4 separate regions of the Homo sapiens genome follow, and regions 1, 3 and 4 are each linked to region 2. The links come from fine-mapping of genetic effects on gene expression. A gene starts in region 2. Each other region holds a variant in brackets. All regions are shown on one strand. Distances are between the middles of the regions.

Region 1 (7,633 bases), 58 kb before region 2:
CCATTTACAGATTAACATACTGGCCTACATAGAAAATTTTCAAAAATCAACTGAAAAATGATTCAACCTAGTATCAGAAACTTTCTGGAAGACAAGCTAATTCTACCGTGTATGCATAAGCAAAAATCTGCATGTAAAAACACGAAAATTCTAAAGACACAGTGTTAGATTGAGAAAAATGGATCATAACAACAGAAACCTATCTGTGTACTGATGTCAATACCATGTAGTTTTAATCATATCTTTAATATATGTTAGACCAAGAAACCATGCCTATGACCTACTACATTATTTTTTTCAGAATTTATCATGATAAAGGTAGCATTTGAAATCAGCGAGGAATACAAAAACCTACTCAATAAATATTACAGAGGAAATAGCAGTCTATTTTGGGGAGGAAGGGAGGTGGAAAGCCACCCTCCACCTTACAACGTATATAAAAATTAACTCCAAATGTTTAAAGAGCCAAATCTAAAAAATTGCAAAGCAGAAGTATTAGAAGAAAAACACAGAAGATATTCATAAATATATTTTAAATTTTTAAGTAGAAAAAGCCTTTCTAAGCAAGACCTAGAAGCCACAAAAAAAGACTAAATATTAAAAATTAAAACTTGTATATAATGAAAGATACTCATCTTAAAGGATAAAACCTAAGTGAAAAAAAGAAAACATATAATCCACTCCATTAAAAATCTAGAAATTGGTCAAACATTGTGGCTTATGCCTGTAATCCCAACAATTTGGGAGACCAAGGCAGGAGAATCACTTGAGCCAAGGGGCTCAAGACAAGCCTGGGCAACATGGCAAGACCATGTCTCTACAAAAATAAATTAGCTGGGTGCAGTGGCACGCACCTGTAGTCCCAACTACTCAGGAGGCTGAGTTGAGAGGACTGCCTGAGCCCAGGAGCTCAAGGCTGCAGTGAGCTATGATCGCACTAGTGGACTCCAGACTGGGCAAAAGTATGAGATCCTGTCTCAAACAAAACAAAACAAACAAACAAATAAAATATATTAATTGTAAACTAGATATTTTGCCCAACATACAAAAATGTAAAAGAACAATAACCTTCAGAGCTGGCAATAATGTAAAATAAAAGAAAATCTCAATACCCATGTTGGTGGTAATAAAAACTGATGAACCTTTTATCCCAAATTCTCATATCCTTCAACCCACCGATTTCCACTTCTAATAATCCATGCTAAATAAATATGCACATAATTATGTACAAGGACATTTACTATAGTACTATAATGGTGAAAAAATTCACATAGATTCCTACAGTCACTAAAATGTTAACAGTGAAAATAATAATTATGATATGCAGACATGGAGCAATACTATTAAATGGGGTAAAAAGTCTAAGTTGCAGAACACTGAGTATGATATAAACCCAATTATGGACTAAAGAAAAACAAATCAAACAAGAAACCCTGCAAAGAACCATCCTGAAATGCATGTGTATATGTACACATAGAACTCTGGAAACTAGTTGTGCATAAAGGGAATTGATCCTTTCACAGGGATAATTGCTGGAATGAAGAATGGGTGGGAGAAAAGTGAAAGGGGATCTTCATATTTGCTAAGTATACTTCTGTATTAATAGTCTCAGCTTTGAAAAGTTAATTGTGTATTATTTGTATAATTTGAAGAAGAGAAGGAGGGAGGCAGAAGAATAGAAAGAAAAACAAAAGAAGCCAGAGGGTCATAGCTCTCAACTTTAACAGTAAATTGTCCAGCAGATTCTTCTTACTGGTGTTTTCTTCTAAGTTGAAGCAACACCAACAGGTAGAAAGAGATTCAAGTGATATCTGTACAAAGGCTTCAGTATGTGACCTTAGAAATTTCTAAACTGTCCTTAGGCAACAGGAAGTAAAACTTAACGACAAATTAGCAAAATAATTCAAAAGCTGTTTAGCAGGAAGAAGGATATAGAAAGTAGCCAATCATATCCTCAAAAAAGAAATAGGCTTAAAAGAAAAAAAAATTAAACACACTTTTTATGCCCCAATTCCTACAACATTTTTGCCATGAGTAAGGCACAAAATTCATATTTTTGTACGTATGAGATCACTCATTCTCAGGTTCTGTCCCAAATAACTGTCTAAGAAAGACTTCTCCCTAGTCATTCCGATACCCTACTATAAAAACGGTACATTAAAAATGAGTCAAATGATAAGTCACTGTGCAATTTTCCTAGCTTTATCCCAAGCTGGTTTTTAATGTTCAAGCAATATTCATTTTTAGTAGGTTAATTATAAATTACTATTAAAAAGAGGAATAGGCTGGGAATAGTGGCTCATGCCTGTAATCCCAGCACTTTAGGAGGCCAATCCCAGCACTCTGGGAGGCCGAGGTGGGCAGATCACTTGAGGTCAGGGGTTCGAGACCAGCCTGGACAACATGGTGAAACCCCGTCTCCACTAAAAACACAAAATTAGCCAGGCGTGGTGGTGGGCACCTGTAATCCCAGCTACTCAGAAGGCTGCGGCAGGAGAATCGCTTGAACCTGGGAGGTTGCAGTGATCCGAGATCATGCACTGCACTCCAGCATGGGAAACAGAGCGAGACTCCATCTCAAAAAAATAACTAGTAATACTAATAGCCAACACTAATGTAGAATTATAATACTAATTATACAATTAGCAATCTAGTACCTGTAAAATAGTTAGCAATTTATAATTTTGGGTAAACCAGATATTAAATGTAAAACTCATAACATGCAAACTTCTTAAATGCCAATGAATAACTGCAAATTAAATTCTTGTTTAACTTTGGAAGCATAAAAGTAAACATTTTTCTTTTGTTGTTTAGAGAACCTTGTATAATATCTTTCCTCGTGGTGCTCAAGACATGGAGCAATACTATTAAATGAAAAACATAATACACATAAATACACATAAACACATCAGAGCACAAGAAGAACTCTGAATATTATACCTGTATCAGCTTCGTGTTCTTTATTCTCATCTGTAAGGGGGTTGTCATGAAGCTTCAAATAGATCTCTATAGCAATTCTTGCTGCCTTGAAGTAAAATGGATGCTGTCGAAGTACATCTTCTAGTTTTAATAAGTCCACATATGATCTAAGGGTAATCTTCCTCATACAGTATGTATGAAAGTCAAACTGGTCATCAGTGATTTCTATAAAATGCTAACAAAATTATCTTTTTATTATTATACCGAAGTACAGCAATGGCTAAGAAAACTATAAAATCAAAGCATTGGAATACTTGTTACTTTGGCATGAAAAAAACTAGTAAAATTTTAAAAAAACAATTACAATTATTCAACAGGAATATTTTGCATTTCAAATAAGCAAATACAGTTAGCCATTGTCTAGCACAGGATATGGCATACTGCAGGCACAGAATCATTTGTTGAAAAAGGAAGCTTTAAAAATGTTTATTCATTATCCCTTCCTTAATTATACTTAAAGCTATTGTGACAACATCAAACATAATTTATTTACATAGTAGTGCAAGTAGACTCACATGTTAAACATTGAGTTTTTATATTTAGAATCATTTGCAAAGGATTATAAGATGTATTTGATAATTTTTTTTTGAGGATACAAATCTGAATCCTATGCAATGTGATGCTGGTATGTGGAAAAGAAATCAATTAGCAAGTAAGTCAAGCAATCAGGAACTTGATGCATTTCAACTAAGCTTTGGTATTCTATACTTGACAATATTGCAAATGTGAAATTAGTTATATAAACTATGTTTATCTGTGTAAAACACAAAAAAGAAAAACCAACCACTAGTCATGGAAATGAGTCAGACGTGAAGAGAATTAAGAAAACAATTTTATCAAACAGCATGAAATTAGATAAGCTACAGAAGAAATATTGTGAAAAGTCTTCCAACATTTATATCTTACCAAGGGTATATGGCATCATCAATAAATTCTACAATGAACAGGGTCCTAGGAGTACTTTAATCAGCTGTGTATGTACTACTAAAGCGGCAGCAGCAATTTGGAAGGTTCAAAAATCAATAAAAACATAGCCAAGATACAAATTTTCCATAAAGTTTTTTAAAAAAGAGTTCTTACCACAAGACAATAGAGACCCTGGCTGAAAATG[C/T]AGTCTATATTTCCAGTATGAAAACTGAAAAAAGTGAATACTGATTTTAAAAAGCACCTACTATGAATTATAAAGAAATAGAAGAGAAAAAAACTATGAAATTTGTCCAAAACCATCGACAGAATAAAACAAGAAAACTTTTATGTAGAAGGTACTTACTCTCTCAATCTCATGACATTTCTTAAGTGCTTCACCAAATTTATTCATTGCTTTATAAGCCTGGGCACATTCTGTTTGGAACCACATGCACTGCATTTCATTCAAATTCTCTACCGCTGATGTTCCTTCCTATACAGAAATCAAATATTTTCAAGATCACTTTTTATCATAGACATCATTCTACCACAGAATTTTAAAAAACAAAGATGTTAAGCTGATTGGGACTCTTTCAAAAAAATTTTTAAAACATTCTTAAAGAATAGTTAACATGGGAAAACAACTGATATTCTCTAACTACTAAAAATAATTTGTAGTTTCACAGGTGAAACTGTGAAACTTTTGAACACACACTGTGTGTTCAACACTGTGAAACTTTGAAACACAAATGTAGTTTCAAAGGTCTACATAATTGAGGGTAGGGATTAATACAAGAAAAAGAACACCACCACATAGCAGGTATTCAATAAATTTTAGTTCCCTTGACCCCTAAAAAATTTATCTGAACGTACATGAATATAAACCAGTTTAAAAGTCCATTGTACAACCCTCTAAATGGAAAATCCTTTATATCAATGTTGACTCCAGTATCTTCTGATACAGTGATTTAATTAAAATCTTGGCTATTACGGTGTCAAAAATATTAAAGACAAACTTTGAAAAATAAGCATGTTATACAAGTATGAACTGGCTCATGTCTTCTTTATTCATAATTAAGAACACTAGCTGTACAAACCCTTGTAAACTTTGAGCACATTTCTTCAGCTTCTTTAATCAGGTTGGCTTTTAGCATGTATTTTGCACATTTGGAGTTGATAAATCTGTCTGCTGTGTCCAAGGCCTGGGCCTCATCCATCCACCTTGCAGCTTCTTTAATATTTCCAGCATGCTTATAAGGTACAAAAGCAAAATAAACCAGTTAGCATGCTAAGTTTACTGTGCAGGTAATTCATTATCTGTTGATAAATAATTTAAAAACAAATGAAAGTAAAGGCATTCTTGTGACTCTTAGATGCTAATCAATATAAAGAAATGCATTCTTCCATAATATAAGTTCTGATTCCTTTTTCCAGCCTTCTAGAATGTAAGCTGTCTGACAGTAAAGATTTATTTTAATAGTTTTGTCTACTGTTAATATCGCCATTGCCCAAAACTGCCTGGCACATAGTAAAAATACTCAAAAATAATTGTTAAAGAATAAATAAGGCCGGGCGCTGTAGCTCATGCCTGTAATCCCAGCACTTTGGGAGGCCGAGCCGGGTGGATCACTGAGATCAGGAATTCGAGTCAAACTTGGCCAACATGGTGAAACCCCATCTCTACTAAAAATACAAAGTAAACCAAGGGTGGTGGCGCATGCCTGTAATCCCAGCTACTTGGAAGGCTGAGGCAGGAGAATCACTTTAACCCAGGAGGTGCAGGTTGCAGTGAGCTGAGATCATGCCACTGCACTCTAGCCTGGGTGACAGTAAGACTCCATGTCAATAAAAAATAAATAAATAATAACAGAAATCTTTTTTTTTTTTGAGATGGGAGTCTCACTCTGTCACCCAGACTAGAGTACAGTGGCACAATCTTGGCTCACTGCAACCTCCGCCTCCCGGGTTCAAGCAATTCTCCTGCCTCAGCCTCCCGAGTAGCTGGGCCTGCCACCACACTTGGCTAATTTTTGTATTTTTAGTAGAGATGGGGTTTCACCATATTGGCCAAGCTGGTCTTGAACTCCTGACCTTGTGATCTGCCCACTTTGGCCTCCAAAAGTGCTGGGATTACAGGCATGAGCCACAGCTCCCGGCCAATACTAGAAGTCAAAACATAATTAAATGTGAAAGTCATAAAAGGCATAGCCAAATCTGTACGCTAAAGGAACCATGGAAACATTACTGATTAGGACCATTAGTAGACATTCCCCAATGTTCCTCATTCTAAGTTACCTAACTAGTCCATCTGGCAAAGCTTCAAAACTAATGAGCCATAATCTAGTTTTAAAAAGTGCTTCCTGGCACATGTATACCTATGTAACAAACCTGCACGTTGTGCACATGTACCCTAGAACTTAAAGTATAATTTTTTTAAAAAATCTAAAAATAAAAAAATTAATAAAAAAAATAAATAAAAAATCAAAAGTGCTTCTTTAGCCAGGTGCAGGGGCTCATGCCTACAATCTGAGCACTTTGGGAGGCCAAAACAGGTGGATCACTTTAGGCCAGGAGTTCGAGACCAGCCTAGCCAACATGGCGAAACTCCATCTCTACAAATAATACAAAAATTAGCTGGGTATGGTGGTGCATGCCTATAATCCCAGCTACCACTCCGGAGGCTGAGGCATGAGAATTGCTTCAACCCGGAAGGCAGACATTGCAGGGAGCTGAGATCGCGCCACTGCACCCCAGCCTGGGTGATGCAGTGAGACTCTTTCTCTCTCTCAAAAAAAAAAAAACAAAAACAAAAACAAACAAAAAAACTTCTTAAATATTACTTAATTTCATTATTTTCTTGCTAAACAAATTACTGGTTTATTATCAGTCCCTCAAGAGCTTTCATTACTAAATTTTATTTGCAATATGACAGAGAAAAGCCAACTTTATTTTAAGATGATACTAAAATATATGACTAAAAATTCTCAAGCAAGGCCCAGGAGTTGAGAAGTCAAAAGAGATAACCTGTAGAATTCATAATAGAATCTTCACAGTTTCATCTCAATAACATTGCCAGATACTGATATGTTATCATACTCAAATTTTAATAGAAATACACATTTCACAGCAAATAAAATTTCTTTTGGATTACCTATATACTCTTACTCTCCAAACCCAAGAGAATTACCAGATACGTGTGAATACATATACATTAATGTATGTACGTATGTGTGTGTATACGGATATAGATAAATCACCAAATTAGCATGACCACAAGTCTCAAAGTAATTGGACTGAGAAATGTACTATACTTGTTACTTCATGTTTTTTGAGTTATCAAATGTCACTTTTCCTATATTTAGAATCTATAAAATACAGAGAAAAAGTTCATGACAAGTCTCATTACCTTATAAGAAAATAGAAAAAAAGATTTTTACCTTATAGATTTTAGCTTTCACGAGAAAGAGTTCTATTAATGTAGGTGTACTTTCAATAGCAGTATTTATGTACTCCAAAGCAATAGATGGCTGACCAATTTTGTCATAATGTTGTGCCAAGTAGTACTGGACCCAAAGTAATGTGGTTGGTGGTTCCTCCTTTCCATCATCTTAGGAGAAGAGGGAGAAGAAACCAAGATGAGGCATTACATATATTAAGAGCACCCCCCAAAATGGTCCCTATGTTTATTAACAAGGGAGGTACTATGAAAGGAGTTTATTTATGTATCTAGCTATAAAACTCCTCCTAA
Region 2 (7,633 bases):
GACATTAACATTTGAAGAGCAAAAAAGAGAGAAGGAAGCAGCAGCAACAGCAACCAACCTACCAATACTTGATTGAAAGGCATTAGGATATGTCCATCTTTTCCAAGCAGGTTAAAATCTAAGGTGTGGATTTTGTTCTACTCTGGCAACCTCATTTTTCCTACCCTTAACCTAGATCCTAACAAAGTGGTATAAATATCTGGTAACCTCCTCAAACTTTTAGATAAACAAATAGCATCAACAGTAGGCAAAGGCCACAATTTTCTAATGACTTAATTTTCCAAATAAGTTAAAAGTTTGTAATTACAAACAAAACAAAACAAAACAAAACAAAAAAAAAACCAGACCAAAAAAAAAAAAACCAGCTTCTGGCAAACACAAGTCTTCCTTAAACTCTTACATAGGACCAGGTGCAGTGGCTCATGCCTGTAATCCCAGCACTTTGGGAGGCCGAGGCAGGCAGAACACTTGAGGTCACTAGTTCAAGACCAGCCTGGCCAACATGGTGAAACACCATCTCTACTAAAAATACAAAAAAAAAAATTAGCCGAGTGTGGTGGCAGGCGCCTGTAATCCCAGCTACTTGGGAGGCTGAGGCATGAACCCAGGAGGTGGAGGTTGCAGTGAGCCAAGATCACACCACTGCACTCCAGCCTGGGTGACAGAGCAAAACTGTCTCAAAAAACAAACAAAATAAAATAAACTCTTACATAGTATATGTCACATTAAATTCATCCCATCCTTTTTCTAGACAAATTATCAGCAAGAAACATTATGCAAGCATTTTGACTAACTTAGGACAATGCTTTAGTCAGAAAACAGAAGAGTAATATTGGAAAAAAGAGAAAAATATACAACAAAACTGAATTTTAGAGATCAACTAGACTAGATCAAGCCAGGCAAATCCACTGCAGAAACTCTAAAATTTTTGCAAACTTATGTGTAAAGCAGGTTTCCATTAAAAATTTAAGGAAAAAAATGTTTATTTTGAAATACAAACTAACTGTATTTCCTACTTAAGTTTATCATAACAAGTACAGTACAACTAACAAAGTAGCAGCTCAAAAGTTGAATGCTGCAGGAATGATTTAACAAGTTACCAAGCAGCCAGGAGCAGTGGCTCAGGCCTGTAATCCCAGCATTCTGGGAGGCCAAGGCGGGTGGATCACTTGAGGCTGGGAGTTTGAGACGAGCCTGAACAACATGGAGAAACCCCATCTCTACTAACAATACAAAATTAGCTAGGTGTGGTGGCACACGCCTGTAATCCCAGCTACTCAGGACGCTGAAGCAGAACTGCTTGAACCCGGGAGACAGAGGTTTCGGTGAGCCGAGATCATGCCATTGCCCTCCAGCCTGGGCAACAAAAGCGAAACTCCGTCTCAAAAAAAAAAAAAAACAACAAGTTACCAACCTAGCAACACTTGATTACATAGAGCACACACATCACATTATGTCCAACATTTCCTTTATCAGACCGGGCAAAAAAAAAAAAAATCTTAAAAGCACTAACTTACTATCAAATCTCAAGAAACAGAAGCAATTTCAAAAAATCAATACTATCCTTTTGGTCAGTAACACTTTCTTCATTCCTAATGTATGAGAACAATAAGGACATTTTAGCTCCTTTACTCTTCCTTCATTTAGTGACTTCCACATTTCTCTCACATATAACTTATCAATAGATCTTCAGCACTGTGATTTTGGCAATAAACTTACAGGTTTTTGCCCCACTAACACTACCACAAAAAAATTAAGATGTTTAATCAAAAATTGCTATTATATGGATGGTTAAACACACTGTGGTACATCCATATCATGGAATACTACTTGGCAATAAAAAGGAATAAACTATTAGCTGGATGTAGTAGCCCTGTAGTGATCCCCCCTACTCCGGAGGCTGAAGCGGGAGGACTGCTTGAGTCCAGTAGTTTGAGGTTACAGTGCCCTTTTGATAGAGCCTATAAATAGCCACTACACTCCAGCCTGGGCAACAGAGGAAGACTCTATCTCTAAACCCAAAAGAATGGCAAAATTATACAAATAGAGGACATGTACCGGTTGCTGGAGCCTGCAGCGAGAGGGGATGGGAGGGCGGTGGGAGAGATAATGGATGTGGTTCTAAAAGGGCAACAGAGGGGGGTACTTTGGACTGAAGGAACTTGTTCTGTAGCCTAATTGTAGTGGTGCAATCTATACATGGGATAACGCTGCATAGAAGTAAATACAGTCAGCTCTCATTATCCTTGGTGTCTGCATCCATAGGTAAAAACTATTTTTAAAAATACAATAAAAAATACAAATTTTTAAAATACAGTATAACTATATAACAGTAATATTGCATTAGGTATTATAAGTAATCTAGAGATATTTAAAGTATACATTCGCATAGGTTATATGCAAATACTACACCACTTTACATAAGGGACTCAAACACCTGCAAATTTTGGAATCTCGCGGGATCCTGAAATCAACCCCCGACAGATACCAAGGGATGACTGCACCCGCGTGCGCGAGCACTCACACGCGTGTACAAGTAAAGTGGGGAAATCTGAATAAGACTGGTGGATTGTATCAATGTTATAATAATGAACCATGGTTTTGCAAGGTATTAGTGTTGGGAAAACTGAGTAAAGTGCACTGTATTATTCCTTAAACTACGTGATTATTACAGTCTTCTCAAAATTAAAAGTTTGATTTATTTAAAAAGTGCTAACACTTGGCCGGGTGCGGTGGCTGACGCCTGTAATAGCAGCACTTCGGAAGGCCGAGGCGGGCGGATCACTAGGTCAGGAGATTGAGACCATCCTGGCTAACATGGTGAAACCCCGTCTCTACTAAAAAATACAAAAAATTAGCCAGGCGTGGTGGCGGGCACCTGTAGTCCCAGCTACTTGGGAGGCTAAGGCAGGAGAATGGCGTCAACCCAGGAGGCGGAGCTTGCAGTGAGCCGAGATCGCGCCACTGCATTCCAGCCTGGGCGACAGAGCGAGACTCCGTCTCAAACAAACAAACAAAAAAAAGTGCTAACACTTGAGAAAATCTCCATATGAACCAGATATTAGACAATATTAGAGAATGATTGTTATAAGTATACAAGACGATGTCCTTATTCTTAGGAGATGCTTGCTTAAGTATTTAGAGATGAAGTTTTTTGTTTTTGTTTTGAGACAGTCTTCCTCTGTTGCCAAGGCTGGAACTGCAACCTCCACCTCCCGGGTTCAAGCGATTCTTGTGCCTCAGCCACCCTAGTAGCTGGGACTACAGGCGAACACCACCATGCCTGACTAATTTTTGTATTTTCAGTAGAGACAGGATTTCACTACGTTGGCCAGCCTGGTCTCGAACTCCTGACCTCAAGTGATCCATCTGCCTCAGCCTCCCAAAGTGCTGGGATTACAGGCATGAGACACCGTGCCCAGCCTAGAGATAAATTTTACATCTACAACTTACTTTTATACAAATGTATATATACATATACATAGGGAGAGAGAAAGCATATATGGCAAATAAATATAAGTAAAGGTTTATGAGTGTTCCTTGTTCTCTCAACTTTTCAGTTTCATTTTTTTCAAAATAAAGAATTGTGAAAAAGAGATTAAAGATAAATTGCTATTCTAAACTTATGTTACAGTTCTACCTGCACACCAATTAGTCTTTTTAAGGGTTTAAAAGTAACTTTTTTCCTAAAACTATTTTACAGCTCCACCTACACTCTTAGTCTTAAAACAAAACAAAATTCCAGTAAGAATTTCAAGGTAACAGTTTTGCGACACTGCATGTGACTTTCTAATGTTTTTCAAAATGAATTCACTAAATCTGTAGGGCATATGGACACTTTTGTAAAATCAAAGTTAGTTCAAATGGATGATTATTCATTTCTAGAAAAACTGAATCCCCAGAGTTGTTCTACTTTTCAAACAGGTGAAATAAATTATAACTGCGGGGGAAAAGGCTAACACTTTCACACACACATCCCAAATTTTAAAAGTCTTAAATTTGGCAAATACAGTTAATTCTATCATAAGGAAACGTTTGCGTGAAAGGGGGAACCCACATACTAAATGCCAAACAAAAAATGTGCTACAATGTGTTAATTATAGCTCCAAGGCTACAGGACATATTTTACAATGTAAACAGTCCCTGCAAACATCAATGCATTTATGGTTTAAAAAAATACAAACTGCACACATTTGAACCGTAGGGAATAAGTCTGAGCTAGCGTCAACAAAATCCATCTCAAAAGTTCTTATATTCTCATTTCTCTGGTAAGTTTTTGCATGTGTTAATATACTTCAGTGTATAAGAAAAGTCTAGGTCTGCAACGTTTCAACTAAAGACTCAACTTTTTACTTCCTACCGAACCGCCCCCTCGCAATGGGCCCCACCTCCCGAGAAGAGTGACGGGGTGGGGCTGTTTCCCGCTCGGAAACTAAGAAATAAATGCCTCATCCCTACTCCAGAAACGAGAACAACGGAGGCAGAGGAGCTGAAGACTCCAGTATGCAACTGACTACAAGGAGGTAGTCGTTTGAAAAGCTTTCTTTCCTTCTCTGAACTCCTTCTTTCCCTCCTCTCAGGTCATTGGGTGACCCCGGGCCGGGCGGAGACAGGTGAATCCCAAGAGAGGAGGAAGAGGGAGGGACAGATGATGGAGGGAGAACCGCGTTTAGGCAATGAATGAGCCTGCTGCATCCGCACCACCTGTTCCTTCCAAGGGTGCCACCCCGACCTGCCAGCAGGGTTCCCACACCAACCGGGCCGCGACTCCTGCCGGTGTCGCCCACTTGCCCGCCAAAGGCCGGGCCTCTTCTCCCCCAGATCGGGGAGAATGAGAACCGGCAGTCTAGAAGCCGGGAGGTCGGGGCCTAGTCCGGAACCAGGGCCTCAAGCGTGGGGATGGAATGAAGAAGCCTGTGGTCCCTGGCGCGCGGGCCATAGTAGGAACCACAGAGAGGGAGCAAAGCAATGCATTCGGCCTGACGAGAGCTATGAAGGCGGGGTCCCGGGCGGGAGTGGCTCAGTGCCCGCCGGGCCGAGGTTAGGGGTGACAGGCCCGGTTACCGGCTAAATCCTCCCCACCGCTTGCCCGGAGCCTCACACTTACCAAGATCCGCTTGAAGAGCGCATTCTCCTTGGGCGGGAGGCTCACGGCCGGCATCGTTCCGGCTGCTCCCGCTGCTCCCGCCACCACCCGGCTCGGTCAGTCAGTTTGTCCGACCGCCGCCGCTGCCGTTCCGTAGCTGCTTCAGCCTTGAATATCTCGATCCGCCGCCACCACCAGGCCTCGGGTGTCGCCGCGTTGCCCTACCCGGACACCTCCTTTTTCCTCGTTGTCTTTTTTCCTTTCTCACTTAACGCTGCCGCCGCCTCCCCCACTACGGGTCTCCGTCGGCGGTTCACGTGGTAACTGAACAGACCGACAGAGGCAGCCAAAATGGCGGACGCGGAGGGTTTTCCCACCCGGGTCACGCTTCCTAACACGCAGGCGCGGTGACCTCCTTTCCCCACCTCCTCTGGGTTTCGGAGCTTGCCGGGAAACCTGGAGGCTGGCCTGCCTGTGGAGGCCGGGAGGGTCGGGGCAGGCCCCGCCCATCATTTCAGTGCGTGGTACCCTCGAAGCGCCCGCGGAGCTACGGGAGGCTAGGCAAGTACGGTTCAGACCGCCTCCTCATCAAAAACAGCCTCTCTGGCGCCTTCCTGCTAGATCGACCTTTCATTCCTTGGAAAGAGTCTCGCACACTGTGTGATCATCGTTTGAGCCCAAAGTGCTAAAATACAGGTGTAGGTGTTTGAGAAGCGCTGTAGTTGATTATGGACGAAATGCCTAATTTAAGGAGCAGAGGCGGAGTGGAAAATGAAAAAAGCTTCACCGCAGTGGAGACTTGTTAACAGCCCTGGGGAGAAAGGGGCTTAACAGAGTCTGGAAATCGTGAAAGAGCTTGACCGATGAAATGGGCCTGGCTGTCGTATCGGTAATTTGGTGAATGTTGCTTAAGATCAGCCTGGAAAGGTAGTTAGTCAGATCCGAAGTGACATATTTGCACTGCCAAAGGAGGCTCTGGAGGTTAAAGTATGTGTTTTAATTTCGTTGTTGAGGCCATATAATGCAGAGTTGACGGACCGACCTTATGAGTCACCTTGGAGCGGAGTAGTGGAGACTTAAAGACAGACTACCCTGGAGCTGGCTTCAAACTAGTTCTTAATATTGTGACTCGAACTCCCCATCCCCAGAAATTCTCAGATCTTAGAAGCCAAAGACTGGCAAGGATACTAGAGGGAACTACTCGAGTAGGCGAGGTCAGACTACATACCGAATAGGAGTCCTTCCAAAAATGTAAGTCATTTCATTAACAGCTGACCGTAAAACTTTTTCAAAGTGGCATTCCATTGATCTAAAAATTTTCAAGTTATATGAGCCACTTTTAACCTTTGGTTTTTGATTACCTCTTTCCAAATCCTGATTTCACTCTGTAGCATTCTTTGCATCATGAATTATTAAACAATATGTGCGTGTTTTTTACTGTTTTAAATTTATTTGCAAAGATATTTTAATTTTCAAACTTCTCTTAACTGTCCCTGAAAGGTGTGAGTTGAGATACATGTTTCCCAATATAAACTTGGGTTTTGTAGCTGCTATATTGATTGTCCTCGCCCTTCACCGGGGTCATAAATAAGGTTTTTAACAGTCAAATCCTGGAGTTTCCTTAAATTCTGTGATCTCTCTTCAAAAGTTTGAGAAAAATCATATATACAGGAAACTATGTTTCAGTTTGAAATATGGCCAGTATTTTAACCTTAACTTTATAAAACTAAGAACAAGCTTATAATTCATTTTTAAGCTGTTACTTAGTAATAACCTGCAAAATTCACTGCCCCAAGAGATCTTTCAACTGTCTGAACTATTGAAAGACAGAAAAAATAGTCTAAATGCAGTTGATAGTTTTAGCTTGGATTTCCAAATCTCTGGCTTCATATCCAAATTTCTGGCTTCATATCCAAAAATCCCTACAGCAATACTATTTGCTATAGTTCTCTAAATTTCTCCTGTAAAGAATATTCTATTTTCCTTCAGAGGAAGAAAATTTCTGGTCTTTGAAACAATCAGTAGCTTCCACCAGAACCTGAGTACCTGATTAGATGAGCCAGAAATAGAGTTTGGCAAATGTTACATTCTTTTTGGGTGATGACAAAGAAATGGCAATTTTAAAGGCTCGGCAAATACTAGTCTGATTCAACATTTAACTGATTCATTTGCTAGTTAAAATGCACCTACAGATAACAGTCTGACCACACAGTAGCCTGAATTGAATAAAAAAATATATATTTACTCTGATCACCACAATTTCACAAATAGAGATCCCATTTGAGTTATACTGTAAGTAACAGCCATGCTTTCAGAAAGTTAACATATCCAAGGCTATATGCTGCCGCTGCTGCTGCTGATGATAGTTAATTCATCTTACCCCATGTGCTTGCATGTCACTATGTTCCAAATGCTAACTCTAAAAAATATTAACCAAAAAGAAAGAAATAAAATCATTTACCTTGCAAACTTTAATTCTACAAAAGGGATATGTTGAGTGAAATTTCTCCATATATGTAAGATGTTCTCTATTGAGACTGTTACATC
Region 3 (7,633 bases), 200 kb before region 2:
TCTGCCTGGATTTCCAGCATAGCTTCTCCATCCCATCTCATTTCTCATTCTTTGCCTCCACCACGTGAAGCATCCTCCGTGATGGGGTTTCCCTCTTCCCGCCTCTGCTTCTCTTTTCCTGCCTCTCTGCTGTGGCAGAGGGAGGGTTGTGTGGTGGAAAGGACTTGAGATCTGGAGTCAGACTGGTTTCACCCGGCTTTGCCACTGTCTGTGTGACGCTGGGCTTTCGACTACTCTCTGGCAAATAAGGATTTGCTGTGGGGTTCAGAAGACTGTTTTCATGTCCTCTCTCCCTCTTCCTTCCTGTGCTCCACCCACACCCACCCCCTTGCAGTCCAGGAGAGCCAGGCTTGCCCCGCTCTTGGGCATGTCTTTCTCCCAGAGAGCCACAGGCTCTGCCCTCGTGCCCTTCAAGTCTTTGCTGCATGAGGACTTCATTGACCACCCCACTTAAACTGCAACATTCTCCTCCCCCAGCATTCCGAGGCCACTTTACCCTCCTTTATTTTTCACCATGCTTCTCATTACCTTCTAGCATACCGTAGAACTTAGTTATATTATGTTGATTGTTTATTGTCTTTCTCCTCCCTCTAGAATAGACAGGGATTTTAGTTTGTTTTATTCACTAACATATCCTTAACATTTGATACACTGTAAGCACTCAATAAATACTCGTAGAGTGAGTGCATGAATGAGAGATTGTAATGATTAGGAGAATTGGGTAATCATCTTGGGTTGAAATCCCAGCCTTGCAATTTCTAGCTGTGTGACATAACTTCTTTGTGCCTCAGTTTTTTCTATTTGTAAAATTAAACTGTGATGACAACTGGGGGAAAAAAAGATTGAGTTTTGACCCATGGATTGAGCTCACTAACTTTGCTCCGCCTGCTCTGGGATGCCACCTTTCCAGGCATAGCCACAGCTTGCCTCCTTCCAAGCAGTCCCCCGTGAAGAGCCCCTGCCCCAGGAAGCCTGGCCTGACTCTTCGGGACCTGCCGTGTCTCCGCTGCCCTGCCACATGTGGATGGACACTGCCAGACCATTATTGTGTGTTCTCGATTGTTTAATGAGTGAAGCATCTAGCTGGCCTCTCCCTTAGATGACAGGCTTTGCGGGGATCACTAGGCATATCTTCCTGGATGTGCACAAAGCACTTTCTAGGCATGTGATGTGGGAGTGACTGAACTAGAGTACTTTTATTTATTTATTTATTTATTTGGGGTTTTTTTTTGAGTACCTTTTTAAAAAATATATTTCAATAGCTTTTGGGGTACAAGTGGTTTTTTGTTACATGGAGTAATTATCCAGTGGTGAATTCTGAAATTTTAGTGCACCTGTCACCTGAGTAATGTACATTGTACCTAATATGTAGATTTTTATCCCTAGCTCCCTCCCACCCTCCCCCTTCTGAGTCTCTGAAGTCCATTATGTCACTCTGAATGCCTCTGTGTACTCATAGCTTAGCTCCCACTTATAAGTGAAAACATAACGGGTTTTGGTTTTTCATTCCTTGGTTACTTCACTTAGAATAATGGCCTCCAGCTTCATCCAAGTTCAGCACGAATTTCTTAAGCTTTACCACATAGCAGTCCCTCTTCTGGGCCATTAGCAAATCAGCAGTGAATAAAAACAAAATCCTTGCCTTTGTGGAGCTTGCATTTTAGTGAGGGAAACGGATAAGAAGCAAGTAAATGACTGTATGTGCCTGGGTAAGTGGTATGGGACAAAGAGAGGAGAATAAAGAGGGTGAGGAGGTGTGCAGGGCCAAGAGGGGTGCTATTTTTTTGTGGGGGAAAGTCAGGGAAGACCTCATTTCCTGAGAGAGAGAACAAATTATGGAGATTCCAGGGGAAACATTTCAGGCTGAGGGGGGCCGCAGAGAGCCACGACCTGAGGTGGGAATGCTCAGGGAAGCGCAGGAGGCCAGGGGACCGGCCAGTGGGGAGAGAAGAGAATCAAATTCTACAGGGGCCCCGAAAACTATTTCAAGGACTTTGTTTTAAACTCAGAGTGCGAGGTGCAGTGGTGCAGCCAGTCACGGTGGCTTATGCCTGTAATCCCAGCACTTTGGGAGGCTGAGGTGGGCAGATCATCTGAGGTCAGGAGTTTGAGACCAGCCTTGCCAACATGGCAAAACCCCGTCTCTACTGATAATACAAAAATTAGCTGGGCGTGGTGGTGCATGCCTGTAATCCCATCTACTCAGGAGGCTGAGGCAGGAGAATCGCTTGAAACTGGGAGGCGGAGGTTGCAGTGAGCCAAGGTGGCACCACGGCACTCCAGCCTGGACGACAGAGCAAGACTCCGTCTCAAAAAAACAAAACAAACAAACAAAAACCACCAGCTTTCTTAAACTTAGTTTACTACAGTTTCTGAAAATGCTTTTGAAATTGTAATTGCTGTTAGCCCTTTCATTGGAAGGATCTCAACAGAAGAATGACAAGATCTTCCTCCCACGTGTAAAAGGATCACTCAGGCTGTTGTACTGAGAATAGGCTGGAGTGGGAGTAGGGACCCAGGTGGAAGCAGGGGGTTCATGATGATGGTGGGCAGGACAGAGGGGCCATGGTGAGGAGAAGTGGTTGAACTGGCGTGCATCATAGGAAGAAACAGTAGAATGTGCTGAGATATGGCATTAGGCATTTCACTGATTATTCAGGAATGGTGAGGCCAACAGATCAGGAGACAAATGCCGCTCTCAAAAATTTGCTGAAAAATCAACTCAAAATCAAAAGGCAGATTAATTGGAGAAAAAGCACATACATTTATTTAATGTGTATACACAAGAGCCTTTAGAATGATGATCCAAAGGTATAGGGGAAATTGGCCATTTTTATACTTAGGTTCAATGAAGTATGAAATATGTTTGGACAAAAACGGCATGATCTAATGCTAACAGGCTGAGTGGGAAAACCTAGCAAAACCTCTCTGTCTAGATTCTTCCTGGCCTCTCTGAGCATGCATTCCTTTCTTCTGGGTATGGGGCAGGGTTGTCAGAACCCAGTGGGTTCTTCTTGCCCACTGCCCTGAAAACAAAAAAACAGTGCACTGAGAACAGCAGATGTTGCAGCGAAGAAAGAATTTAATGATCACAGGGCCAGCCAAGCAGGAAGACAGGAGAAATTTCTCAAATCTGCCTTCCCAAGAATTTAGAGGCTGGGGTTTTTAAGGGTACTTTGGTGGGAAGGGGGCTGGGAAACTGAAAGGATTGATTGGCTGTGGATAAAATCACAGGGGTGTCTAAACTGTCTTCATGCAGCTGAATCAGTTCCTGGGAGGGGGGGTCTTGGGACCAGGTGGCATCTCTGGGTCTGCTGAAATGCTAAATCTGAAAAATATCTCAAAGACCGATTCTTCAGGTTTCACAGTAGTAATGTTATCTACAGGAGTAGTTGGGGAAGTTATAAATCTTGCGACTCTGGGGCAGTAAGCAACTTACAGAAAAACAAGCTTGGCAATGGCAGGTCATTGTTTAACTCAGCCTATGCTTTAGCAAAGTTCAAGCCTCTACCATAATTCTAACCTTGCGTCCTCTTGTTAGTCTTTACAAATTCGATTTCCATTTTTGAACAAGGAAGGGACCAGTTCAAGGAAAGGACTATTATGGCCTCCACACAAGAATGAGGACAAGCAAGTTAACCTGGTAGAAGCAAGATAGTCAGTTATGTCAGATTTCTCTGACTATAATTTTGCAAAGGCAGCTTTAGTGCCCTTTCTGGAATGGGGGTCTTCTGACTATAGTCAAACAAGGTAGGTCAGAAAATTTTTTTCTTTTTGAGACAGACTCTTGCTTTGTTGCTCAGGTGGGAGGGCAGTGGTGCAATCTCGGCTCACTGCAACCCCTGCCTCCTGGGTTCAAACAATTATCATGCCTAATTTTTGTATTTGTAAAAGAGACAGGATTTCACCATGTTGGCCAGGCTGGTCTCCAACTCCTGGCCTCAAGAGATCCGCCCACCTTGGCCTCCCAAAGTGCTGGGATTACAGGCATGAGATAATTTCTTTATGGTCAGTTTTTACACAGAAAGGCAGAGGGAAAGTTAGAGTGATATTTTTAGGTTTTATGGCTGGCTTTGGGGAAAAATAGTTCTGGTTGGC[A/C]GGATCTGCCTTGGGGTCTATAGGCAGCCTCTGGGAAGGATGGGACTCAGAGACAGAAGGGCAGGAGAAAGTCAGAGAAAAATCTTTGCTCCTGAAGCTGCCTCTGAGGCCTTCATTTCTGGATATTGTCTTCTGAACCCCAACAATAGTTTGTTATTCACAGTTCCCAAGAGGAGGGGGCACACCATGTTACAGGGGCCACATGGGGAAGCACCAGGATCAAGTAGGAGGTAGATGGAGTAAAGAGAAAACGTAGACAAGAACCTGTATTGTGGTGTCTGCAGGAAGAAATGGAGAGGCAGTCAGCAGGCCTGGGATTGGCTAGCTTGAATAACTTCAGTAGATTCTGGGGTGTACCGGCTGTCTTTAGTTGTCTGGTACCTGACCCTGGGGTAATGGTGGCTTGGAGTGGAAGAGGCCTAAGAAGGAAGTGGTTGTAGGCACAGAGGCTGATTTGGTTAGGTTGCATGTGAAAGGTGCCAGGCCTTTGCTATCTCTAGGAATCAGCTAGCCCTGGGTGGGGGGCAGTCCCTCCAGAGCCCACAAGGCCCTAGATGTCAAAGAGTCAGCATTAAAAGACATGCTTTAATATAATAGGAAGTAAGGAATCAGGGATGAACTCCGCAGTTTTTGATCTGAGCAACTGAAAGAATGAAGTAATCACTTAGTGCAAATAACGGTCACCACTGATGATACTGATGGTCTTACCGTAAATCTCCTGCACTTTCCCAGTTTTTATTTCTATTTCCAAAACAACCCATTAATTTCTTCATGGTCCAGCTCCCTCTTGTGGTGAGGATTTATTCTCATACTGTTTCTGACATGCTGTAAAACAAACACCTCTAGGGAAAGGATGATTTAACACATTTTAAAAATCCCAGCACTTTGGGAGGCCGAGGCGGGTGGATCACCTGAGCTCAGGAGTTCAAGACCAGCCTGGCCAACATGGTGAAAACCCATCTCTACTAAAAATACAAAAATTAGCCGGGCGTAGTGGCAGGCGCCGCCTGTAATCCCAGCTACTCAGGAGGCTGAGGCAGGAGAATCGCTTGAACCCAGGAGGCGGAGGTTGCAGTGAGCCGAGATTGCGCAACTGCACTCCAGCCTGGGGAACAAGAGAGAGATTTCGTCTAAAAAAAAAACAAAAAAACAAAAAAACAAAAAAAACATGAAAACTCAGTTGATGTTCTTTCCTATCATCAGGTTGAACTTTGATTAGCTAAATTAAGACACCACTTCCAGGGCTTTTTAAATTTTTTTATTTTTTATTTTATTTTTTTTGAGACGGAGTTTCGCTCTTGTTGCCCAGGCTGGAGTTTAGTAATGGCGCAATCTCGGCTCACTGCAACCTCCGCCTCCCGTGTTTAAGCGATTCTCCTACCTCAGCCTCCCGAGTAGCTGGGATTACAGGTGCCTGCCACCATGCCCATCTAATTTTTGTATTTTTAGTAGAGACAGGGTTTCACCATGTTAGTCAGGCTGGTCTGGAACTCCCAACCTTGGGTGATTCGCCCACCTCGGCCTCCCAAAGTGCTGGGATTACAGGCGTGAGCCACCGCACCCGGACTTTATTTTTAAATGAGCCCAAATTTCAAGAGGGCTAATAGCACTTCTGGCGCCTACAGTAAACAAAGTTGAACAAAACTGGTTTATCTTTTAAAACAAACAGAAGCATTTCTGTGTCATACAGGTCTTTAAAATCTCTCTCTGCCTGGAGCACAGTTATCTGTAAAACACGAGTTATAAGATCATTAGTACTGGCTGGGCATTATAGGCATAAGCCACTGTGCTTGGCCTCTGAAATTTCTTTATCAGAATTATTATAGCACTCGGACTCTGTGTGTGTGCATGTGTGTGTGTGTGTGTACAGGAACACAACTTATCTAAGTACGATTTACAAAACCTACAGCTATGTGGAACACAGCCAGAAACCTGAGACTGAGTGACTTCTGAGCAGTCAATAGCTATTTCAGTTCATGCACTTTACTCTGTAGAAGAACAACCATAACACAGTCCCCGTGGAACATCAGGTTCCAGCCTTAGAGCCTCTGACCCAGTGAAAAGTCAGAGCCAGCAAAAGAGAGGATGGAGAAGATTTAGAAAAATGCAGCTGGGTTTCTAAAAGTCTCCTTTCTGGCTTTTCAGCACCGTGGCTTGAGATCTATGTACCTTAATAATCTCTGAAAACGTTCTCAGCCAGTTGCTTCTCCAATTTCAGTGGCCAGAAGAATCACCTGGGAACGTGTAAAAGAAGCAGATTTGGGGCTCCACTCCCAAAGATCCCACATCTGGATCAAGCGCCCTGGGTAGAACACAGAAAAGCTGGCATTCCTCTTTATAGTGCAGCCCAAGGACTGATGCTCATAATGATGTTCGTGAGTAATTAAGAAAAGATAAAAGCGAATGGAATGAACTCTGCCTACTGATAATGGCAATTGTCAGAACATAGGCTTCCCTCAAGAACTCAAAATCGCACTCTGGGAGCCATTTTAAGATCTGAAAAGAGATACCTAATAAGTTGTGCCAGAGAAATCAATAAATAAAGTCACCAGAGGGGGGAAAAAGACCCTCAAACCAGCAGGACTTGATTAGATAAAATATCTTTTAAAACAATCAGGATATTTGGAATTTTCTTCAGGCTAATATGGGAGATAAGGGAAGTGAAGTGTGGGTGTAGATAAAACCAGACTGACCACATGTGGATAAGGATTTCAGCTGGGTGATGAGTACGAGTTCATGATCTTATATGTGTGTTTTTATATGTTTTTGAAATCTCCACAATAAAAAATTACAAAAAAAGTTTAAACCCAGGTTATTAGGTATAAACGTACCAAAAAAACAGTGTCACAGAGGCAAACATTACCTAACTCTGCCCAAGCAATCATGCTCCTTGAATTTTCTGGCCCCACTGGCAACTAATCCCTATTATAAAGTGAATATATCAGAGATCATTAAACATTACGTTTATATAACTGAAAACTCCCTGATATGGTTTGGATCTGTGTCCCCACCCAAATCTCATCTTGAATTGTAATTCCCATATGTGGTGGGAGGGATCTGATGGGAGGTAACTGGATCATGGCAGCATTTTCCCCCATGCTGTTCTCATGATATTGAGGGAGTTCTCATGAGACCTGATGGTTTAAAAGTGGCAGCTTCCCCTGCTCTCTTTCTCCTGCCGCCTTGTGAAGAAGATGCCTGCTTCCTCTTTGCCTTTTGCCGTGATTGTAAGTTTCCTGAGGCCTCCCCAGCCATGCAGAACTGTGAGTCAATTAAGCCTCTTTCCTTTATAAATTACCCAGCCTCCGGTAGTATCTTTAAGGCAGTGTGGAAATGGACTAACACACTGCCCCTGGTTCTGATTTCCTACTCACTAAGCAATTCTCTGATTGCTGAGGAAAATTTTCCAAGGTAATGAATGTGTCCTGATATAACCTCTAAAAGAAGACAGCCAGGTGAATAAACACCCCATCAGCTTGTGGTTGCCTTCCTTGAATTTCTGGAGAAACAATAGCTGTAATTTATTGAATGACTT
Region 4 (7,633 bases), 180 kb before region 2:
GGCGACAGAGCGAGACTCCGCCTCAAAAAAAAAAAAGAAAGAAAGAAAGAAAGAAAGAAAGAAAGAAAGAAAGAAAGAAAGAAAGAAAGAAAGAAAGAAAGAAATGGTCAACAATTTGGATCGGTTATCTGTGGGAAAAAAAAAACGTGTAGCACATTTTTTCAGTTTAGTAAGTCTTTTAATTACTCCGTCATGAGATAAACAGTGGACCATCCAAATAGTACAAAACATCTTCATAGTCACCTCTGATAGTTTGTAGAAAGGTCCACAGGTTTTCTGACGGGCTTCTCATTCACAGAATTTACATCTCCTCCCCTTAAAACCAAGCAAGATTTTGCGATTGCTGTTCTACATGGATACAGAGTGACCTTCGAGCTAAGTTAGAAAACGCCCCAGGGCTTTTGCAGGTTTATCTTGCGCCACTTACTCTGGGTGCTTGCAGCCACCATGTAAGAAGTCCTGCTACCTTGAGGCTGCCATACGGAGCAGCACAGAGAAAGAGAGAGCGAGAGATGCCCGAGGAGTGCCGGCTGCTCTGCCCCAGCTGCTGCATATTCTTCACCTGGACTTCAGATGACGGCAACCTCAGGAGAGACCTGTAGCCTGCACTGCCTGCACACTCCTGCCTTGCCACAGCGGCGAGACAACCAATAATTGTGGTCTTATCTACTCAGTTTTGGGGAAGCTTGTTACACAACACTAGATACTACACATATATTATTTCATTCTCACAATAACCCCGTGGGTTAGTGTCAGCCCTTTTTAAAAATGAGGAAATTGAAGCATGGAGAGGTTTGACTTTTAGAACATCTAGGATTCAGGCTGGGCACAGTGACTCATGCCTGTAATCCCAGCACTTTGGGAGGCTGAGACAGGCGGATTACATCAAATCAGTAGTTTGAGACCAACCTGGCCAACATGGCAAAAACCCATCTCTACTAAAAATACAAAAATCAGCTGGGTGTGATAGTACACTCCTGTAATCCCAGCTACTTGGGAGGCTGAGGCAGAATTGCTTGAACCCGGGAGGCAGAGGTTGCAGCGAGCTGAGATCATGCGACTGCACTCAAGCCTGGGCAACAGAGCAAGACTCTCTCTTAAAAAATAAAACATAAAATAATTTGTTTAAAAAAGAACATCTGGGCCAGGCACGGTAGCTCATGCCTGTAATCCCTGCACTTTGGGAGGCCAAGGAGGGCGGATCACCTAAGGTCAGGAGTTTGAGACCAGCCTGGCCAACATGATGAAACCCCGTCTCTACTAAAAATACAAAAAATTAGCTGGATGTGGTGGCACACGCCTGTAATCCCAGCTACTCAGGAGGCTGAGGCAGGAGAATCACTTGAACCCAGGAGGTGGAGGTTGCAGTGACCCAAGATAGCACCACTGCACTCCAGCCTGGGTAAAACTCCGTTTCAAAAAAAAAGAACATCTGGGATTCAGCTTCTTTGTGGTCTCACTCCACAGTTTAAGCGCGGCGTCCTCTGCCTCTCAGCAAGAGAGGACAGAAGCAAGGGTCAAAGGCAGTGGAAGTGATAGATCCAGGTAGGAGACTAGATGTGGGAGTTGGGGGAAGGGAAGCCTCAACAGAAGCTGGAGGTTTTGAGGAAACACAGGAAGAAAAATAAATTTAAGGAGGAAGATTGAGTTTATACATTTTATTTTATTTTTTATTTTTATTTTTTGAGACTGAGTCTCACTGTTGCCCAGGCTGGAGTACAGTGGTATGATCACGGCTCACTGAAGACTCAATCTCCTGGGCTCAAGCGATCCTCCCACCTCAGCCTCCTGAGTAGCTGGGACCACAGGTACAGACCACCACAGTCAGCTAATTTTTAAATTTTTTGTAGAGATGGTGTCTCTCTTTATTGCCTGGGCTGGTCTCAAACTCCTGCGCTCAAGTGATCCTCCCACCTCAGCCTCCCAAAGTGCTGGGATTACAGGTGTGAGCCACCATGCCCCACTGTTTATACATTTTAAATTACATGTTTGAGTGGTCCACAGATACTGCAAAAGAAAGATGGCCCACATGCAGCAGCCAATTCAGGATTTCAGAGGTAAAGGTGAGGCTCTAAACATGGGTTCAGGAATCAAGTAACTCTGAAGGTGAGATCGTAAAGGAAAGGGTGTTCAGCCAGAAGAGGATGGAAGAAAAAGGCTCAGGGAGTGCCTCCCTGTCTAGCTGGTCATACACCTTATCCTACGTGATTAAGTTCCCAATGTTTTCAGAATTAAAAAATGTATGCTCCATAGCACCTTTGGATGTACAATGGAAGAATACACTCTCAGAAGTAGGCAACATTTACTAATCTTACATTTGCATAAGGAGTTTATGAAAATATAACAAATCACCAAATTAGCAAGGATTTTTTAGTTCACACTTTAGAAGTACTTCAGAAATGCATGAAAATAGCAGTATGCTGTGTTTCCCAGTGAAGAGCTTCAGAGGCGTAGTATCACTTTCTGCAGCAGATGCTGACTGGCTTACTCGACGCCTCCCCATCCTCTTCTAGTGTGCTTTCCTGCTGCAGAGCCTGGGATGATAAAACCTGTGATTCCCAAGATATATTTGCAGCTTCAGTTCTAGGAAGTGGGTAGAGACAGGGTCACAGGGAGAATGGCCTTTCTTTCCAGTGTGATGTTGAAGATTTCAGTACTTCTGGGACAGCTTTGGGGACATTTTGTGGCCAGTCCTGAGTGTCATAGGTGCTGAGGAGAGATAGTGGTGACAGTCAACTGTCTACAACATCTGGGCATTTATCTTGGCTACTATTGTCCCTGTCTTTGTAGCATCCAAATTTTGGTCCCAGGTCCTCCTAAAGATAACATAAGCTACCCCAAATTCTCTAAGTTCCTTTCTTCTTCTTCTTTTTTTTTTTTTTGAGACAGAGTCTCGCTCTGTCACCCAGGCTGGAGTACAGTGGTGGGGTCTCGGCTCACTGCAACCTCCACCTCCCAGGTTCAAGTGATTCTTCTGCCTCAGCCTCCTGAGTAGCTAGGACTACAGGCATGCACCACCACTAATTAGCCCAGCTAATTTTTGTATTTTTAGTAGAGATGGAGTTTCACCATATTGGCCAGGCTGGTTTCGAACTCCTGACCTCGTGATCTGCCTGCCTCAGCCTCCCAAAGTGCTGGGATTACAGGCGTGAGCCACCGCGCCCTGCCAGTCCCTTTCTTCTTAAATGAGCTAGGTGAGATCCCTAACGTATACCAGTTCCATAATAGACTTTACACATATATTTTCATACAGTAGTAAAATTGTGTACCATCAATTTTATCACAGACTGACAAATTTTAACAATTTAAAGCTAGATGTACTTTTCTAGGATAACTTAGATGAGGTATTAGTTAAGCCCAAATAACATTGGCTCGAACAAGATGTAAGTCTTCTACTTGACTCTCACTTACTGGTCCAAGCATAACTGTCTGGGGCTGTGATGGTAGCAGCACAGCATCTGGGACCCCGGTTCCTTCTCTTTGGTTGCTCTGCCACTCCTAGGGTGTTGCCTAGGAATGACATCTGCATGGCGCACCCATTGTTCACTAAGTCCCTAAAACGGTGTTTTCCCCTGGCGCAGGTTTAAAGGCTGGTAGAAAGGCACTAACTCAGGTTCTCCCAGCAAGTTCCTCTCCTTGAAGGACTGATGCGCTAGGGCAGTGAGTGGGCCCCAAATTGCTCCCTGACCACACGGGCAGTCCCTAAACAGGGATAGTGCAATCGTCATCCAAAA[G/A]TTTTAGTCCCAATGTCCCCAAGTCTCTTCCACATTTCACCTCAAGTGTTCTTCCAGTTAGAATTGCATTCATCTACAGGTACTCAAATCCCCTGAACAGTGGGGATTGTTTTTCTCAGCAAAATCATGAGGTAAGTAGCCTGAGCTGGTGTGGTAGCTGCAGGACACTGTTCTCCAGAGCATTTTGTAATGCCAAGGCATCCATGCCAGTGCTATAGCCTCCCTCCCACGTGCCAGCCATGGACAGAGGAGGAGGAAGCAACCAGAGGAAAGGGCAGGCCTCTTTACAGGAAAGCAAAGTTTCCCTGGAAATCCCTGGCAAGCACCTGCTCATATCTCTTTGGCCAGAACTGTGATATGTGGCCATACCTAGCTACAAAGGAGGCTGGGAACTGATTATCTAGTGGGCTATGTGGCCAGCAAAAGAAACCAGGGTTCTGTTAGTAAGAAAAGAGGGAGATGTGTTACGAGCTGAATTGTGCCCCTGCCCCCCGAAAAAAGATATTGGAGTTCTAATCCCTGGTACCTCAGAATGTGACTTTGTTTGGCGACAGGGCCCTTAACAGAGGTAATCAAGTTAAAGTGAGGTCATCAGGATGGGCCCTAATCCAGTATGACTGGCATCCCTATGAGAAGAGGAAATCTGGGCTGGGTGGTGTGGTTCATGTCTATAATCCCAGCACCTTGGGAGGCTGAGGCCGGTGGATCACCTGAGGTCAGGAGTTTGAGAACAGCATGGCCAACATGGTGAAAACCTGTGTCTACTAAAAATACAAAAATTAGCCAGGCGTGGTGGTGCACACCTTTATTCCCAGCTACTCAGGAGGCTGAAGCAGGAGAATTACTTGAACCCGGGAGGCAGAGGTTGAAGTGAGCCGAGATCATGCCACTGCACTGCAGCCTGGGCAACAGAGCGAGACTCCATCACACACACACAAAAAAGAGGAAAAAATCTGGCCAGGCATGGTGGCTCACACCTGTAATCACAGCACTTTGGGAGGCCGAGGCTGGAGGATCACTTGAGCCCAGGAGTTTGGGATGAGCCTGTGCAACCTAGGGAGACCTCATCTCTACCAAAAAAAATTTAAAAATTGGCCAGGCGCAGTGGCTCACGCCTGTAACCCCAGCACTTTGGGAGGCCAAGGCGGGCAGATCACAAGTTCAGGAGATCGAGACCATCCTGGCTAACACGGTGAAACCCCGTCTCTACTAAAAAAATACAAAAAAATTAGCCGGGCATGGTGGCAGGCACCTGTAGTCCCAGCTACTCGGGAGGCTGAGGCAGGAGAATGGCGTGAACCTGGGAGGCGGAGCTTGCAGTGAGCTGAGATGGCGCCACTGCACTCCAGCCTGGGCAACAGAGTGAGACTCCATCTCAAAAAAAAAAAAAAATTAAAAATTAGCTGGGCATGGTGACATGCACCTGTGTTCCCAGCTACTCAGGGGGCAGAGCTTGGCGGATTGCTTGAGCCCAGGAGGTCGAGGCTGCAGTGAGCCAGGAGAGAAATGGAACATATTCTCTCTCACAGGCCTCACAAGAAATCAACACTACTGATACTACCAGCCTCCAGAACTGTGAGACAATACATTCCTGTTTTTTATGCCACCCAATTTATGGTACTTTTTTCCTGCAGCCTAGGAAATTAATACAAGAGGGAAGACAAAAATTGGGTAGGCAACCTGCAGTCTCTGACACATCTATTTAAAAAAATAGGGTTTATAATCATTCTGAGCAAACTATCGCAAGGACAGAACACTGCATGTTCTCACTCATAGGTGGGAATTGAACAGTGAGAACACTTGGACACAGGGTGGGGAACACCACACACCGGGGCCTGTCATGGGGTGGGGAGAGGGGGGAGGGATAGCATTAGGAGATATACCTAATGTAAATGACGAGTTAATGGGTGCAGCCCACCAACATGGCACATGTATACATATGTAACAAACCTGCACATTGTGCACGTGTACCCTAGAACTTAAAGTATAATAAAAAAATAATGTTTATATTTAGAGCAGATTTAGGGTCACAGAAAAATGGAACAGAAACCATCAAGTTCCCACAGAGCCCCTGCCCATCCACACATACACACGGCCTCCCTCACTATGTACATTTATTACATTTGATAAACCTACATTGAGACATCATAATTATCCAGTACATAGCTAACATTCACTTGTGTGTGTGTGTGTGTGAGAGAGAGAGAGAAAGAGAGAGAGAGAGAGATTGACAGGGTCTCACTATGTCCCACAGGCTGGAGTGCAGTGGAACAATGTCAGCTCACTGCAACCTCTGCCTCCCGGGTTCAAGTGATTTTGCTGCCTCAGCCACCCAAGTAGCTGGGATTACAGGCGCCTGCCACCATGCCCGGCTAATTTTTGCATTTTTAGCAGAGACGGGGTTTCACCATGTTGGCCAGGCTGGTCTCAAACTCCCAACCTCAAGTGATCTGCCCGCCTGGGCCTCCCAAAGTGCTGGTATTACAGGCGTGAGCCACTGCATCTGGCCGAGAATTCTTATCTCAGGCAAGGTTAGTCTTTCTAATTATGACACAAAATGAGAGTCATGGAAAAGACTGCTAAGTTTCACTACATTAAAATTATTTTCATGCCAAAAACCATTAGAAGCAATGCCATTTGGCAAAAAACAAACTAGGAAAAAAAAATAAAACATCACTAACTTACCCAAAATATTCAGTATCCCTACAAAAGGCAAAAAAACAAAACCTGACAGAATGTGAACAGACAATTCAACAGAAAACAAAATGTAAACATTAAATATAAAAAGATGCTCAACCCTACTCATAAGATAAATGCCAGTTAAAACCACAGTGAGATATCATTTTTCACCTATTAATGTTCCTTCCAAATGTCAAAACCTTTGATAATAGACTGTGTTGTGAGTGTGTGAGGAATCAGGCATGCTTTTTATTACTAGTGCAACCTCTGAGGAGGGCGATTAGAAACCCAAATTGCAAACACAGATACCTTTCATCTAGCAATGTCACTTCTAGGAATTTTCCCTTTGTATATACTCACACATTTGAGAAATTACTTATGTAAAATGATATCCATTTTGGTAATGCTTGTAATAGCAAGACTGGAAACAACCTAAATGTTCATCAGTAGAGGGCTATCTAAATAATGGCCAACTAAAGGAATTCCATGAGACCTAAAAGAGAATGATGAAGCTTACATATTTTAACATGAATTCATCTCCAGGGTATACTGTTATGTGAAGAAACAGCAAATTCAGGGGCCAGGTGTGGTGGCTCGCACCTGTAATCCCAGCGTGGGAACTGGGGTGGGAGGCCAAGGTGAATGGATCACTTGAGCCCAGGAGTTCCAGAACAGCCTGGGTAAGATGGCAAAACCGTGGCTCTACAAAAAGTACAAAAAATTAGCTGGGTGTTGTGGCGTGCACCTGTAGTCCCAGCTACTTGGTAGGCTGAGGTAGGAAGATTGCTTTAGCACAGGAGGTGGAGGTTGCAGTGAGCTGAGATCACACCACTGCACTCCAGCCTAGGTTGCAGATTGAGACCCTGTCTCAAAACAAAAACAGAAACAAAAAAAATTCATGGTACTGGTTCCTTGTGATAAGAACTGAGGAGCTGGGAGAAAGAGTGGGAAGGAGAATTCACCATTTACTCTTTTGTGAATGGTTCAAGTATTGAACCATGTGAATGTATTTCCTATACAAAAATTTAACTTAAAAAAAGAAGTCCCATTACTGATCACATTTTATTGAAACATGGAACTCTCCATTTGCAGCAAGAAAAGATTAATAATGAGGAGCTGAGAAGTAATAAAATGGCTCCATATACTCTGTTAAGTTTATGGAATGAATAACCAAAACAAAAGTTGAATTGTTTTTGTAATTTAAAGAATGTTCTGGGACT

Alleles and levels. Alleles are on the strand shown, and positions count from the first base shown. SD is a standard deviation of normalised expression in the study named.
With allele T in place of C in region 1, the expression in spinal cord of the gene that starts at base 4,462 in region 2 is lower (moderate effect, 0.43 SD a copy in GTEx).
For the expression in thyroid of the gene that starts at base 4,462 in region 2, A is the high allele of the variant in region 3 and C is the other (small effect, 0.12 SD a copy in GTEx).
For the expression in fibroblasts of the gene that starts at base 4,462 in region 2, G is the low allele of the variant in region 4 and A is the other (small effect, 0.19 SD a copy in GTEx).

Evidence for each region. PIP is the estimated chance that this variant, and not a neighbour inherited with it, causes the effect.
Region 1: its variant is the best candidate, but not a certain one, in a credible set for the expression of NDUFC1 in spinal cord (GTEx, PIP 0.72).
Region 3: its variant is the best candidate, but not a certain one, in a credible set for the expression of NDUFC1 in thyroid (GTEx, PIP 0.85).
Region 4: its variant is the best candidate, but not a certain one, in a credible set for the expression of NDUFC1 in fibroblasts (GTEx, PIP 0.75).

What each region holds. Positions count from the first base shown.
Region 1 is chr4:139,357,245-139,364,877 of GRCh38, reverse strand. It overlaps NAA15 (N-alpha-acetyltransferase 15, NatA auxiliary subunit), which reads right to left. Exons shown (of 20, transcript NM_057175.5): 11 at 7,323-7,492; 12 at 4,983-5,135; 13 at 4,250-4,378; 14 at 2,941-3,154. Among named protein-coding and RNA genes, the nearest start is that of NDUFC1, 59 kb to the right of the region's middle. The variant C/T (reference allele first, on the strand shown) is at 4,091.
Region 2 is chr4:139,299,306-139,306,938 of GRCh38, reverse strand. It overlaps NDUFC1 (NADH:ubiquinone oxidoreductase subunit C1), which reads left to right and starts at 4,462. Exons shown (of 6, transcript NM_001184989.2): 1 at 4,462-4,523. NAA15 (N-alpha-acetyltransferase 15, NatA auxiliary subunit) reads right to left here and starts at 5,434. Exons shown (of 20, transcript NM_057175.5): 1 at 5,108-5,434. The coding sequence starts at 5,161. RefSeq lists enhancers at 5,384-5,443, 5,924-6,043.
Region 3 is chr4:139,495,205-139,502,837 of GRCh38, reverse strand. It overlaps a transcript of SETD7 not described here. Among named protein-coding and RNA genes, the nearest start is that of RAB33B, 45 kb to the right of the region's middle. RefSeq lists a silencer at 4,749-5,043. The variant A/C (reference allele first, on the strand shown) is at 4,099.
Region 4 is chr4:139,478,027-139,485,659 of GRCh38, reverse strand. No RefSeq gene overlaps it. Among named protein-coding and RNA genes, the nearest start is that of RAB33B, 28 kb to the right of the region's middle. The variant G/A (reference allele first, on the strand shown) is at 3,735.